Regions from separate parts of the Homo sapiens genome. Here region 1 is linked to region 2. A link means that fine-mapping ties the variant in region 2 to the expression of a gene that starts in the linked region. Tissue or cell type: monocytes. Region 2 holds a variant in brackets; the other region holds the start of a gene. All regions are shown on one strand. Distances are between the middles of the regions.

What was found. PIP is the estimated chance that this variant, and not a neighbour inherited with it, causes the effect.
Region 1: CDC42BPA starts here. The variant in region 2 is fine-mapped to the expression of CDC42BPA in monocytes (Quach 2016, PIP 0.95).

What each region holds. Positions count from the first base shown.
Region 1 is chr1:227,317,093-227,319,852 of GRCh38, forward strand. CDC42BPA (CDC42 binding protein kinase alpha) reads right to left here and starts at 1,400. Exons shown (of 37, transcript NM_001394014.1): 1 at 1-1,400. The coding sequence starts at 90. LOC124904531 (a long non-coding RNA gene) reads left to right here and starts at 1,500. Exons shown (of 2, transcript XR_007066911.1): 1 at 1,500-1,906; 2 at 2,022-2,760.
Region 2 is chr1:227,392,362-227,395,121 of GRCh38, forward strand. It overlaps LINC01641 (long intergenic non-protein coding RNA 1641), which reads left to right and starts at 1,193. Exons shown (of 4, transcript NR_187381.1): 1 at 1,193-1,343. The variant AT/A (reference allele first, on the strand shown) is at 1,697.

The DNA of each region.
Region 1 (2,760 bases), 75 kb before region 2:
TGTCTCCACACTGAAGCACTGCCCATTGGTCTGAGCGGGCCCGTCCAAAATAAACTGCTCCAACTGCCTCAAACGCACTTCTCCAGACATGTTTGCTTCGATTTCTGCTGGTTTTCCTTTAAATTATTATGATGACTTTTACTATTATCTGAACCTAAATTTTAAAAGGTATGGTTTTAAAAATAAACCACTTGTTATTCAAACAACTGTCATGCAATGCTGGTGCTGAATTAAACATCCAACACACCAGTAACCTCACTTAACTGAAGCGTCTTCAATTTCACCCATATACATATATTTTGAGGGTAAATTACCATAAAATATATACTTAATGCATTTTTAAAAGAATACAATTAAGTCGTATATTTAAATAAAATAATAATTAAAAGTACAACGAACTAGAGAGTCAACACTTCTTTAAAAAAAAAAAAAAAAACTCTTCTCCTTCATTCAAAATTCAACTCGTGCAACGTAATCCTGAAACGAATCCGGTTGCATCATTAATGAATAAAGTCCGATTTGCATCAGCAATTCACTTCCCGGGAAGAAGAAAAACAGAAAAGGGAGGAAAAAAACAGAATGCATAGAAGGGGGAGGGAAAACCAAAAATGTTGCTGCAAATCCTCCCAACCACCACTTGGATAATGCATCAGCGGCAATTTCTCCAGCGGGAAAGGGAGGGGGCGAGGTCCCTGAAGCAGCCCCTCGGCTCGGAGCACGCCAAGTCTTGCCCGGAGGCGGCTTTTCGTTTCTCCTCCCGAGGTCCTTCTTTCTTTAAGGCTTTGCAGTCAGTCCTATTTTCAACGGATTCCGGTGAAAACTCTTCATTTTCCTCCCGGCTTCACCCTAGGGCCTGACCGGCGGCGCGGCCGGGGGTGGAAGGCGGGCTGCGGGCGGCACTGGCACCGGGCTCCGGAGAAGCGGCTACTTGGCCGCCCGAGCCCACTCCATGTCGGTGGTCGCTCGTGGGCCGAGCCGCGCCGCGCCGCGCCGGGCAGAGAGCCCGGTCTCCCCGACACCCGCACCGGGCCGCCGCGCCGGAGGCTCCCGACGCCCCAGGCGGGGGGGTGCTTCTCTGAATTCAAAGGACACAAGCAGCAGCAGCTGCGGCGGCGGCGCGGGCGGCTCTGGCAGCTACTTCTCCCCCTTCTTCACACCCCTGGGCTAAGGGCATCTTTCCACAGCGAGGAGGGAGGCGGCCCGGCGCAGGAGGAGGGGTCGCTTCCGCGGCTGAGGAGACTAGAGGCTGCGGCAGCCCGGCTCCCAACCACTCCCTTCCTCTCCCTTCCAGCCCTCCCCCGCCTTCCCTCTCCTCTCGCGCTCGCGCCCTGGGCTCAGCGAGGCTCCTCCAGTCCCGCCGCACAGAGGCGGAGGCTTGCGGACGAGTCTGGATCCAATATGGCGGCCTGGCCCCCCGGCCCCGGCACACGCGCGCGCACACGCCCTCCACTCCCCGCCCCCGCCCTGCCCGAGCCTCAGCCCCAGCCGGCGGCCAAGCCGGGCGGGGTCCGGCCGGCGCGCCCAGCGGAGGCCCCCAAGGGGGCGCGGGCTCGGGGCCCGAGTGGCTGCGCCAGCCCGAGGGGAGGGGTGTGGACTGCCTAGGCGGCGAGGCTGCGGCTGCCGCAGCGTGGAATGCGGAGCTGCGGGAGGGCTGAGGGAGGCCCGGGCGGCGGTGGCGGAGCATATGGAGGCGGGATGACCGGGCCGCGCCGGGAGCTGCGGCGGGACTGGGCGCAGGCTGGGAACTGCGCCACCGCCGCGCCGTGGCCCCGGCTCCCCGAGGCTTCTGGTGCAGATCGCGAAGGGGGGCTCCTGCTCGTCCTCGGAGACATCACCTGTCTGGCGCGTTTGTTAAGGGCGCCCAGAAGCAGAGGGCTTTAGGCTTCCGACAGAGCTGGAGGAGACGGTGCCTTTCAGCCCCTTACCTGCTCCCCACCGGCCCCCCAGATTCGGTTCGCGCACACTCCAGAGTAATCGTTTCTTAGGTGTCTAATTACAGCACTTCGTGTGTCATTTCCCAGGACAAAAACAATGACAGACTTGTCCGAGCTACCATCGAAGTCTTGGGTCTGCACGCAAAGGATGGAATCCCCCATCTCCATTCCCAAAAGTTTCCCTACGGGAGCCTGGTGTTGTCTCCTCCGGAACTGTCCTCGCGGCTGCCTGTTTTTCCCTAGCCATGGTTACTGCCTGCGGGGGATTCAGCCTGTGAAGGCAGTCAAGGCAGTTCACCACTGTCATCAAACCTACACCCCTGTGTGCATGCGCACACACACTTGTAACCCAGTGGCACAATGCAGGAATTAGGGAAGCAAAGGCAAATCGCTGAATAGCTAGGGCACCTGATCCCTGTAGGGCCCTTCCAGGTTTTTGTGAATCTCGGTTTTAGGAGAGCTCCCTTTATAAAATTCTCATGGAAGATGCCACATTTAAATTAACACCACAAAACTAGGTCATTGCAGTTCTGTTACTTTCTCTCAAAATTGCCATCTCCTTTATGGTCGTTCTCTAAAATACAATTATTTTATATTCCTTCCCCACACCTGTGAGGCGGTTGTGTTTCTATGTTCATGTCCACAATTGCATCTTACATCTTGATAATATGGAAGCTGAGGAAGAATTAGAAATGAGGGCCTAGACGTAAAATGAAGGCTAACAGAAGTCGATTCAAGTTGTGATTCATGAAATAGTGTGAATCTTTTATGAAATCTACAACGTCTACACTTGCCTGGCTTAAGAACAGCATTATTTTCAATGCGG
Region 2 (2,760 bases):
TCTTAGTTCTTCCTTTTTTTCTCTAAAATCCTGAAAATAAGATCCAATATAGCCAGGTGCAGTGGCTCATGCCTGTAATCCCAGCACTTTGGGAGGGTGAGGCGGACGGATCACCTGAGGTCAGGGGTTTGAGACTAGCCTGGCCAACATGGTGAAACTCCATTTCTACTAAAACTGCAAAAATTAGCCAGGCGTGGCGGGTGCCTGTAATTCCAGCTACATGGGAGGCTGAGGCAGGAGAATCGCTTGAACCCGGGAGGCAGAGGTTGCAGTTAGCCGAGATCACGCCACCGCATTCCAGCTTGGGTGACAGAGTGAGACTCTGTCTCAAAAAAAAAAAAAAAAATCCAATATAGCTAAGAGAAGACACATAGCTATTATAAATAGAGATATGTGATCACCTACCCATCCAAGTTTTAAAAATAGTCTTAAGTGCTATTCCCTCGAAGATCTGTAGAATTTGCTTTAAAAATAAATATCGGTTGGGCATGATGGCTCACATCCGTAATCCCAGAACTTTGAGAGGCTGAGGTGGAAGGATGGCTTGAGGTCAGGAGTTCAAGACCAGCCTGGGCAACATAGTAAGACCCGCCCCCCCACCCCATCTCTCCAAAAACATTTTTAAAAAATTGACCAGGCATGCTAGTACATGCCTGTAGTTTCAGCTCCTTGGGAGACTGAGGCAGGCAGATTGCTTGAGCCTGGGATTTCGAGGCTTCAGTGAGTTATGATGGCACCACTGCACCCAGCCTGGGCAACAGAATGAGACTCCATCTCCAAAAATAATAAATAAATAAATAAATAAATAAATAAATAAGTATTCTTTTTTATAGTGCAATGATCTGTGATTTTATATATCTGTGGGTGCAATTGTATCTCTTTATGATTCCTAATATAGTTTATTTGTGCTCTTTTGTTTCTTTATCAGTCTTATTAAAGATTGGGTAATCAAACCGGATTTTTTTCTTAAAACTAACTTTCATTTGTATTTATTTACTCTATTTTATGACTTTGGTTTCTATTTCAGCCTTTTCTGCCCTTATTTTTACTGATGCCTCCTTCTGTTATGGGTCAAATTGTGCCCCCTGCCCAAAGATAGGTTTAAGTTTCAATCTCCAGTACTTCAGAATGTGACTTTATTTGGCAACGGGGTCATTGCAGATGCAATTAGCTAAGTTCAGATGAGGTCATAGTGGAGTAGGGTGGGCCTCTAATCCAACAAGACTGGTGTCCTTAAAAGAAGAGGGAAATATGGACACAGACATAGACACAGAGGAAGATGATGTGAAGACACACAGGGAAAACATCATGTAAAGACAGGCTTGGAGTGGTGCACCTACAAGGTGAGGAACATCTGAAGCTGCCAGAAGTTGTGAGAGAGGCATGGAGTAATTCCTTTCCTAGCACCTTCAGAGGGAGCACGGCCCTGCCTATACTGATAACGATGGTTCAACTTACAATTTTTCAACTATACAATGCTTTAAAAGCAATTCAGTAGAAACTATACTTCAAGTAACCATGCAACTATTCAATTTTTCACTTTCGGTACAGTATTCAATAAATTACACAAGATATTGAAAAATAGGCTTTGTATTAGATGGTTTTGTCCAATGGTAGGCTAATGTATGTGTTCTGAGCACATTTAATTTAGGCTAAGCTAAGCTGTGATGTTTGGTAAGTTAGGTGTATTCAATGC[AT/A]TTTTTTTTTTTTTTTTTTGAGGTGGCGTTTCACTCCTGTCTCCCAGGCTGGAGTGCAATGGCACAATCTCGGCTCACTGCAACCTCCGCCTCCTGGGTTCACGCTATTCTCATGCCTCAGCCTCCTGAGTAGCTGGGACCACAGGCATGTGTCACCACACCCAGCTGATTTTTGTATTTTTAGTAGAGACGGAGTTTCAACATGTTGACCAGGCTGGTCTCTGGTCTTGAACTCCTGACCTCTGGTGATCTGCCCACTTCGTCTTCCCAAAGTGTTGGGATTACAGGTGTTAGCCACCACGCCTGGACGGATTTGGGGTTTTAAAAAATTCATTCTCACTTGGGAGGCCAAGGCGGGTGAATCACTTGAGGTCAGGAGTTTGAGACCAGCCTGACCAACATAGTGAAACCCTGTCTGTACTGAAAATACAGGTGTGGTGGCGTGTGCCTGTAATCTCAGCTACTTGGGAGGCTGAGGCAGAAGAATCGCTTGATCCTGATGGACTGGAGGTTGCAGTGAGCCTAGATCATGCCATTGCACTCCAACCTGTGTGACAGAGCGAGACTCTGTCTGGAAAAAAAAAATCATTCTGATAATCTCTTTTTGAAAGTCAATGTTTAACACGTTTATGGTTGCTGAGGCTAATGATAATGTTTCAACTTATTTTTAATTTTCTTATTTTTTCATCTTATGTTTATCATTCTTTGCTTATTTTTTCCTTTTTCCTTCCTTCTCTTGTGTTGAAAACATTTTCTATAGTCCTTTTTTCTTCTGCTGTTACTTTAGGAGCCAGACATGGTATCTTATTTATTTTAGTAGTTGTCCTCATAGTGTTAACTTGCATACTTAACAATTCCATATTCTAAGAACATCTAAATTATTAAATATTCCTCTTCTTTTTCCTTTCTAGAGTAGGAGAAGCCTGCCTTGCCTCTGGCTTCAAGTAGTGATAATTCAATTAATATTCAATCAATATTCAATTAATATTTCAATTAATATTTTTGGGGGGGACATAGTCTCACTCTGTTGCCAGGCTTGAGGGCAGTGGCGTGATCTTGAGTT